Linked DNA regions of Homo sapiens. The protein of the gene in region 2 purifies or fractionates together with the protein of the main gene of each other region. This does not show direct contact. Each region holds a gene or a part of one and is shown on either strand. Other genes may lie near its edges.

The links. Proteins that work in one complex are often made in the same cells at the same time.
Region 1: the proteins of SQOR (region 2) and P2RY8 purify together in Homo sapiens (co-immunoprecipitation; one large-scale study listed by IntAct). This does not show direct contact.

The regions. Positions count from the first base shown.
Region 1 is NC_000023.11:1,530,464-1,535,478, forward strand, and holds part of P2RY8 (S-geranylgeranyl-glutathione receptor P2RY8), read right to left. Parts: intron 1-5,015. UniProt on the Homo sapiens protein: G protein-coupled receptor for S-geranylgeranyl-glutathione (GGG), an endogenous metabolite present in lymphoid tissues.
Region 2 is NC_000015.10:45,658,027-45,663,663, reverse strand, and holds part of SQOR (sulfide:quinone oxidoreductase, mitochondrial), read right to left. Parts: intron 4,758-5,637; 5' UTR 4,741-4,757; coding exon 4,507-4,740; intron 1,710-4,506; coding exon 1,539-1,709; intron 1-1,538. UniProt on the Homo sapiens protein: Catalyzes the oxidation of hydrogen sulfide with the help of a quinone, such as ubiquinone-10, giving rise to thiosulfate and ultimately to sulfane (molecular sulfur) atoms.

The DNA of each region.
Region 1 (5,015 bases), on a different chromosome or scaffold from region 2:
GTATGTATGTATCTACCTATCTAATCTATGTATGTATGTATATATGTATCTAATTTATGTACGTACATATGTATGTATCTATTCTATCTATGTATCTATCTATCTGATTGATCTATCTCTCTATCATCACCATTATCTATCTATATGTATGTGTGTATCTATCTATCCTATCTATCTATCTCTCATCTATCTATGTATCTCTCTAATCTATCATCTATTTAATCTATGCATCTATATATCTATCTATCTAATCTATTTATCCATGTATGTATGTATCTATCTAATCTATGTATGTATATATCTATCTAATTTACGTATGTATCTTTTCTATCTATCTCTATTATCTATATATCTATCTGTCTATCATCACCATTATCTATCTATATCTATGTATGTATTGTCTATTCTATCTCTCATCTATCTATATATCTCTTTAATCTATCATCTATCTATCTAATCTATGCATGTATCTATGTATCTATCTATCTAATCTATTTATCCATGTATGTATGTATGTATGTACCTATCTAATTTATGTATGTATGTATATATCTATCTATTCTATGTATCTATTTATCGATTCTATCTATCTGTCTGTCTGTCTGTCTATCTATCTATCTATCTATCTATCTATCTAATTTGTCACCCATCTATCTTTAAGACAGTGATAGATGAGCAAGTGATTTTGCTACCTGGAGACATTGAGTAATATCTGGAGACATTTCTGATTGTCACAACTGTGGGTGCTCCTGGCACCTTGTGGCTGGAGCCCAGGGACGCTGCTCTACACCCTACAATCCCCAGGATGGCCCCACCACAGGGAATTCCCCCGCCCCAAATGTCACTAGTGCTCCAGCAGACAGCCTGTGCCTTTTGTGTCTCATGAATGGTTCTATCCCAAGATCTGTCCTTGCCCCATCTTCCTGCATGCCCTCTCCATCAGGGGTCCCCCTGCTTACAGGGTCCCCCGTAAACAATGTCCAGGCCCCCTCCCAGCCTGACTGTGCCCAGCCCGAGGGGTTAGCATGCTCAGCCCACCCCCAGCTCATGAACTCCTGGGGAGCCTGGACAGCACATTGCCATTCCACCAACTCATCATCCGAAACCAACACAGCCTGGCACCTGCCACCTGCTTCTGTCTGTGCCACTCCCTGCCCAGCCATGGAGAGTCTCATAGGACTCCTCCCTCCCATGGAGACCTTCTTGGCTAGAAAATCACACATCCTGCTTCCACAAAGTCCCTCTGCTCAGGGCACCAGCACCTTTCCCCTGGAGCAGGGCACTCTGCACAAAAGCATCAACGCAGTCCTCAAGGTCCCAGCCCGGCTCAGCGGCATGAAAACACGCTCAACATCACGAATGATCAGGGAAATGCAAATCAAAAGCAGAATGTGACATCACCTCACTCCTGCAAGAATGGCCACAATCAAAACATCAAGAAATAGCAAATGCTAGTGTGGATGTGGCGAACAGGGAACACGTCTGCACTGCTGGTGGGAACGTAAACTAGTACAGCCACTATAGAAGACAGTGTGGAGAGTCCTTAAAGAGCTAAATGTAGAACTACCATTTGATCCAGCAATCCCACTGCTGGGTATCTAGGTAGAGGAAAGTAACTCATTATATGAAAAAGATACTTAGAGGAAAGTAACTCATTATACGAAAAAGATACTTGCACAGGCATGTTTATAGCAGCACAATTTGCAATTGCAAAAATGTGGAACCAACCCAAATGCCCATCAATCAACAGGTGGATAAAGAAACTGTGGTGTATTTATATATATAAATGCCGGCACTGACACACACACAAACACACACACATATATGTCATATATATGTGTGCCATATATATACACACACGTATATATACACATATATGTATATGATGTGTATATATACACATATACGTATATGATGTGTGTATATGCACATATATGTATATATGTATATGATGTGTATATATACACATATATGTATATATGTATATGTGTATATATACACATATATGTATAGATGTATATGTGTATATATACACATATATGTATAGATGTATATGATGTGTATATATATATACATATACTTATGATGGAATACTACTCAGTCATGAAAAAGAATAGCATTTGGAGTGGCCTGGATGAGATTGGAGACTATTATTCTAAGTGAAGTAACTCAGGAATGGAAACCCAAACATCGTATGTTCTCACTCATAAGTGAGAGCTAAGCTATGAGGATGCAAAGGCATAAGAATGCCACAACGGCCGGATGCGGTGGCTCACACCTGTCATCCCAGCACTTTGGGAGGTCGAGGTGGGCAGATCACAAGGTCAGGAGTTTGAGACCAGCCTGGCCAATATGGTGAAACCCCGTCTCTACTAAAAATACAAAAATTAACCGGGTGTGGTGGCACATGCGTGTAATCCCAGTTACTCAGGAGGAGGCTGAGGCAGGAGAATCGCTTGAATCCGGGAGAAGGAGGTTGCAGTGAGCCGAGATCGCGCCACTGCTCTCCAGCCTGGGCAACAGAGTGAAACTCTGTCTCAAAAAAAAAAAAAAAAAAAAAAACGAAAGAAAGAAAAAAGAAAAAAAAAGGAATGACACAAAGGACTTTGGGAACTCCAGGGCAAAGATTGGGGAGAGGATGAGGGATAAAAGGCCACAAACCGGGTTCAGTGTATACTGCTTGGGTGACGGATACCCTGAAATCTCACACATCACCACTAAAGAACTTCCTCGTGTAACCAAATGGCACGTGTTTCCCCAAAACCTATGGAAGTAAAAAGTGTAAAACAAACCAACAAAAACACACATCAGCTTCTGAAAAAATCTTCTGAGGAGTGTGCTTTCTTGAGGCAAATAAAAGAGATTGCCAAAAATAATATATATATATTCATATATTACATATTTACATATTTATTATTTAAACATATATTTATGTATTTTTTATTATTTATATATTATATATTTATATATTTATTATTTAAATATATTGTATATTTATATATTATTTATTCTTTATATCTTATATACTTATATATTTATTATTTAAATGTATTGTATATTTATATTTTATTTATTATTTATATATTATATACTTATATATTTATTATTTAAATATATTATATACTTATATATTTATTATTTAAATATATTATATATTTATATATTATTATTTACATATTTATTATTTACATATTTATTATTTAAATATATTTTATATTTATATATTATTTATATATTATATACTTATATATTCATTATTTAAATATATTATTCATATATTATTTATTATTTATATATTATATACTTATATATTTATTATTTAAATATACTATATATTCATATATTATTTATTATTTATATATTATATACTTATATTTATTTAAATATATTATGTATTTATATATTATTTATTATTTATATATTATATACTTATATATGTATTATTTAAATATATTATATATTCATATATTATTTATTATTTACATATTACATAGTTATATATTTATAACTTAAATATATTATATATTTATATATTATTTATATATTACATATTTACATATATTATATACTTATCTATTTATTATTTACATATATATTTGTATATTATTTATATATAATATATTTACATATATATTTATATATAATATATTTACATATATTATATATTTATATATATTTACATATATATTTATATACAATATATTTACATATATTATATATTTATATATATTTACATATATATTTATATACTTACTATTTATATATTATATATTATTTATATATAATTATTTATATAATTATATATGTAATACATATATATATACACACACACAGATAGGTGTATCTGTTGCTTTATCCTAAGTGAACACAGATACTGCATCACTAGGGAGCGACATTGTGAACCGCAGAACACTCCCTGCAGTCCCCTGAGCTCAGTCTGGTCCTTGGGGGTGATCCTGGGGGCACCCATCACGCCCACGCCCTTTCCGTACCTTAACAGGTGTAGGCAGGGTGTTGTGTGTCTCCCAGGGGCCGTGCAGAATCTCCTAACCCGAGAGAGGAAGAGCAGGGTTCCAGGTGGACACTGGGATCCCTGGACCCTGCCCCGCCCACCCCACTGCCTCTAGGGACAGAAGAGGGGCTGGGGGAGGGAGGTTGGGGACCATGCCCAGACACAGCCAATGAGGAGGTCCTGATGGAGAGGCAGGGCTGAAGGAGAGGGCGCAGGAGAGAGACTCAGACGAGAGGGGGCCATCTGCCCGGGGAAAGGGCCTCTCCAAGCGCAGGGCTGTACGTATGCACCACTGGCAACAGCTACCCTGCTGTTGTTAATCCTAAGCCATCGCTTCTTCCCTGGAACTTTAAGGGACAAACTCAGAACTGCAGTGTGGGTAGGGTTGGAGGGAGGGAGCGTCTCTGTGGTTCTCCAAGGGGACCTCACCTCTCCCACCCACCCCAAGGTTGGTCAGTCTGAATGGTGCAGCCAGGCGGGGACCTGGCAGAAGGCATCTGAAAAGCATGTGCTTTTACAAACACAGGGTTGCCCACCGTCCCGTACGTCCCATGCACGCCTCTCTCAGCCTCTGACCTAATTGTCCTCTTGTGGGGTGGGGGAGGCCAATATTTGGGAAAAGGGGCAGCATCCTGGTGCACGTAGGACGCTGGCACCTGTCTGGCAGTGCCTAAATGAAAGTACTGCTTTTCCAATGTGGGATAATTCCTTTTTTTTTTTTTTTTTTTTTGAGACAGAGTCTCACTCTGTCACCCAGGCTGGAGTGCAGTGGCGCGATCTTGGCTCACCGCAACCTCCGCCTCCTGGGTTCAAGTGATTCTGCTGCCTTAGCGTGCCGAGTAACTGGGATGACAGGTGCCCGCCGCCACACTCGGCTAATTTTGGTATTTTTAGTAGAGACGGGGTTTCACTATGTTGGCCAGGCTGGTCTCAAACCCCTGACCTCAAGTGATCCACCCACCTCGGCCTCCCAAAGTGCTGGGATTACAGGCGTCTGTCACCG
Region 2 (5,637 bases):
TCCCAAGTAGCTGGAACCACAGCACACACCACCACACCTAGCTAATGTCTTAATTTTTTTTGTAGAGACAGGGTCTTACTATGTTGCCCAGGCTGGCCTTGACCTCATGGGCTCAAGTGATCTTCCTACCTCAGCCTCCCAAGGTGTTGGGATTACAGGTGTGAACCACCATGCTCAGCCAAAGCAGGTACTCTTGATCAGGGTCCAGGGAAAAGCTACAGAAAATCTCTGAACTCCCTAAAAGCAAATGCAAAATCTGATACATAGGTGCATTTTTCTAGAGAGGGCTTTCATCTGGTACCCAGAAAGATCCATGACCCAAAAAAAGCTTAACAATGCCTCAGCAGGCCGGGCACAATGGCTCACCCCTATAATCCCAACACTTTGGGAGGCTGAGGCAGGTGGATCACTTGAGGTCAAGAGTTCGAGCCAGCCTGGCCAACATGGTAAAACCCCGTCACTACCAAAAAATACAAAAATTATCCAGGCATGGTGATGCGCACCTGTAGTCCCAGCTACTGGGGAGGCTGAGGTGGGAGAATCGCTTGAACCCAGGAGGTAGAGGTTGCAGTGAGCCAAGATTGTGCCACTGCACTCCAGCCTGGGTGACAAAGTGAGACTCTGTCTCAAAAAAAATAATGCCTCAGCAGATGAATCTCTGTTGGAGGAAGGGTTGGACTTGAAAACGTTTTAGGATCCTCACCCAACTCTGATTCTACAATTCCGTGAAAATGCCAGAGTCCCAGTTGAAGGGGGAAGGGGCAGAGGATTAAGACCAATAACACCTTGTGAGTCCAAAAACCACAGGAGCCTGGAACAGGTCAGAGCACGGTGGCTGCACTGCCTGCCCCTGCCCTGGGCTCAGCAGCAGGTGGGGGAAAAGAAAGCTGCAGATGGCTTCTGAGCAGGCCTTCCACCATCCTGCTCTTATCACCTCAGTCAAACATGGGGCGGCCACTGCTGAAAAGCTTTGACCCCTGAGTGGTGAGGGTGGGAGACTTCTAAAAGGTGCTGAGCAGTTGTGAGCCTCAAGCTCCAGCAACAATTCTCCTTAGCGCTGGCATGAACCTCAGAGTCACAGGATTCCCCTACAGTTCTGGTAGAGCGCCCCCCAGGGTGGCTGGATGGATATTTTCCAGCATCCTATTGTTCTGGGAGGCTAGGCGACCGGTAGAAAATCTGATTGCTTCAGAAAAAGAGAAGGAGGAAGGTGCTTGCTATTTTAACATGTAGCAACGTATAAACAAATGGTCTGATAAACATTCAGGTGCAAGATAGTATACTAAGCAATAGGGTGCACAGTGGGTGTTCAACAAATACTTATCTTAGTTGTTTATTAACTCAATATCACTCAGTCCTTCCATCTATCCTCCACTTACCACATACCCTGCCATCTTGTGTAGTATTCAACACACATACGTTCATGCACACACATGCATATATACCGCTCTTTCAACACAAGGCTATCCAGTTTAAGATGGCTGCATATTAATACAAGCTGTCAGATTAACAAAAAATCTAAAGGCCTCAGTGGTTACCTTCTCGTCGTCATCTGTGTGAATGCAGTTCTTGTCTGGGTTCAACTCAGTCACTCTAGCTTTGATCCATTCTACACCAGATGGAATCACACTTGCCGTGGGACGACCAGATGAGGACAATTGTTTGGCACCAGCACCCACCAGTGTCCAGATTGGCTGGTAGAAATGTCTCTGAGAAACAAAGTATTTGAAGATTTATTGCAATTTGACACTGATCAAAAGGGGTCATAGCTAACAGTATGGGCTAGATTCTTTCAATCACTCCCTCCTGACCTTTAGAGCATCGTATGGAAAAGTCTCCACAAAGTTAGCTCCGTCTATTAGGCGTCTCCTATTATGGTAAGCTCTGAAGGACAGTCACTCCACACAAGAATTCTTCCAAGATCATCAGAAAAGCTATAAACTATCTTTAGTGACCACTGCATTATGTATTGCTGAAAGTTGATTTGGTGTTTAATATGTACATGTTATATGCACGTGCATATCTACACACATATTATGGATACTTCATGTGAACAAATATTTTAAAAATTAAGCCCAGCAGCCTAGATATGGTTCCTCAGGAGCATGTGGAGACAGTGGTAAGTCTGGAAAGTTTACAGCCCCTTCCAGAGGTCCTCTAAACTTCATTAACTTCCAACTGTGTTTCCCAAGCCCAGTGAGGGCTGTGTTTCCTGAACAGCCCTTCTTCTACTTTCTCAGAGACTCAGAGATTTTACACCAAAGACAATAAGTACCAGATCCTACTCCACAATGCAATGCATACCCAAACTTTCACTATCTTCTGGAGTTTTCTTGCTTCAGATGGTCCTTTTTTTTTTTTTTTTTTTTTTTTAAGACAGAGTCTCGCCCAATCACCCCAATCACCCAGGCTGGAGTGCAGTGGCACGATCTCGGCTCACTGCAACCTCCACCTCCCAGGTTCAGGCGATTCTTCTGCCTCAGCCTCCTGAGTAGCTGGGACTACAGGCATGTGCCACCATGCCTGGCTAATTTTTGCATTTTTAGTAGAGATGGCATTTCACCATGTTGCCTAGGTTGGTCTTGAACTCCTGACCTCAGGTGATCTGCCTTCCTCAGCCTCTCAAAGTGCTGGGATTACAGCCCTGAGCCACTGTGCCCAGCAACAGTCCATTCTTGATCTAAGTTAGTTGTAAAAGTTCTGGACATAGGGGCAAAGGGCAGATTTGTTTAATGGCCTCTAAGAATTCCAATCCACTTAGAGTAGACTGGGGACCAAGAGCTCTCAATATTGCCAAAATGCCTCAAAGTAGCTGGCCAGCACTGCCAAAACCCACAGAGAGGTGAAGAGGACACCAGGAATGACTTTGCAATCTCCCTACAAGCAATAATGTGATCCAAGAGGGAGGAAGACAGAGGTCTCCATTTATGAGAGCTCATCAATGGCCAGTCTATCTTGAACAGTAAGAGGAGCAAAAATACAAGCTCAGATTTTATTTTTAGACTATGAACATCAGCTCCAGCTATCACTAAATCAGACTCAGCAGGGAAAGTACCAAGCCTGGGGCTCTGGCAGCTCCTTCCAGAAATTCCTGTCCTGTACTTCCTCACGGGGCAGGACAAACTTGATTCTGGCCGCCTGAATTGTGCCCAGGTCCCAGAAGAGCCAGTCTCCTTACAAAGAGAAGCCTGACTGGGAGACCCGCCCACGCATTAGCTAAAATACAACATATACCAGAAACAGTAGCCACCTGACACAGCTCTCAGACCACTGTCATTTAAAGTGAGGTTCCTGAATTGAACAGACGTCACTTTAAAAAGGAAAATGATAGAGACTGCCCCCTAGTTTCCTCTCAAATCATGGCCCTGGTTAACATCATTCCCTGCTGGGGACAAATCTTGAAAAGGAGTATGTCTTCCTTGTCCTGTCCTCCCCCTGAAACAGGCACCTGATCCATTTTGCTTTTTCCTCCCAAGGATACAGCTCCCAACCAGTACATGCCTAGTTCCACAGGAAACATTAGGCAAACCACCAAAAATCTTGAATATTTTTCTGAAGCTTTTGGACAATCTTAACATGTTTTTTGTGAGACAGCGCCTTACTCAGTCTTCCCTCCTAGTGTCAGCTACCTTTTCTCCCTTATAATCTGCCCTTGCATTTAAATTTCTAAGCCCACTGACAGCTTTCCAGAGGCCTTCCTGCTCCCCAACTCATCATCCCTTCTCCAGACAGGAACAGATAGGCAAGTGCAGTGGCCATTGATTTTCCTCTGGGCAGGAGGTTGGCACTGGGAGAGTGTCATGGGTTGAATTGTATCTCTCTCAAAGAAGGATGTTGACGTTCTAACCCCAGTACCTGGGAATGTAACCTTATTTGGAAATAGGGTCTTTGCAAATGTAATCAAATTAAGATGAGGTCATTCTTGAATAGAGTGTGCCATAAATCCAATGAATGGTGGCTTTATAAAAGGGTCATGTGAAGACACAGGGACACAGAGACACACAGAGAACATTCTGTGAAGATGGAGGCAGAGAAAGGAGTGGCACAGCTACAAGCCAGAGAGTGGCAAGGATTTCAGGGTAACCACCAGAAGCTGGGAGAGAGGCATGAGACAAAGCCACCTGCCCATCCCTCTCACCCAGGCTGCAGAGGGAGCATGGCCTTGCCCATAGCTTGGTTTCAGGCTTCTAGCCTCCAGAACTGTGAGGGAATAGATGTCTGTTGTTTTAAGCCACCCAATTTGCAGTAATTTGTTATGGCAGCCCTAAGAAACTAATACAGAGGAGAACACTAAAAGCCAAGAGATCTGTTCTCCCTCTCTCTTTCCCTCCACTTCCTCCCAGTCCTTCTGGATAGGCTGCTTTCTGTGCCCAGGAGAAGCCCTAACCTGAACATATGAAGACCCATTGCTTGATAGTCATATCCAACCCCAGAACACACACACACACACACTCACACACACACACACGTACACACACACCCAGGCCCTCAAAAGGGGAGGCTTACCTCACTGGGCTCAACAATGGCCACATTCTCTGCACCCACTTTCCTCTTCATGCGGGCAGCCATGGTGATTCCGCCACTGCCCCCACCCAGCACCAGCACCTCATAATGGTTCCTGGCCGCATGGCTGGCCCCGGTGTGCAGCTGAAGGGGGCCGACCTGCTGAGTGCCCAGCCTGAGCAGGCAGGCAAAGAGCTGGGCACGGGGCCCTGATACCACAGCCACCAGTGGCACCATCTTCAGGCAGGATCAGGCTGGAAGGGAAGAGACAGGGCTGTGAGTGCCAAGGTAGAAACCATCGTGGGACTGAAGCGTTTTCTTTCCAGGAGGAAGGGAGGCCGGCATCTGGCCCGCTCCAGCTGGTCCCCATCATCTCTCAAGACCACTTTCCCCACTGGCTGTGGTCCCAAGGTCTCCTGAGAGCACCCAATTGGTAGCTATCAGTTGACTACACTTACCATTTCTCCCCTTCCGCCTACGTTCAGGCTATCGAGGACTTTGTTTGAATCAGGTTCCCCAACTCTTTAAGTCCTTCCTAATAACCTGTCTGTACCCATCCTTGTCCATCCGTAAGATCTAGGGCACCATCTGGTTGTATCCAGCTGTTGGCCCATTCTCCACGGAGGCACACTCCCCAGTGCTTTCTGTGGATTTTCAGTCCATTAAAACTGATATACGAGTCCACAATTAGAGACCTACAACATTCCTTGCAGTAAAAGGCACCTGAGACCTTGTTGAAACAGAAACCGTCTAGCAAGAAACCCACCTTCTGCAACTCAGAGTACCCACCAGGGCAATCAAGGCCTCAGCCCCCATCCAGAGGCCTCCTGGCTCTGCTTGCCCAGGGAAATATAATGTAATCAAATCACTGGCTACCGACACACAAGTGAAGGCCCTCCACACCTCTAGCAATTTCAACCAAACGATTTTAGAAAGCCATAAAAGGAGCCCTGCCTGGTATCATAAAGTTATATTTTATGGAAGGAATCTGTATATGCTGCTGACTAGTCTTTTATTACATCCAATTCAGTAAACAATTTCTCCTTAATAGTTCCTCCGAGAGACTCACTTTACCTTTAAGAAAACCTGTTTCTACTCTCAGCAGTTAGTGCTTTGGCAGAGAGGAAATTAAGG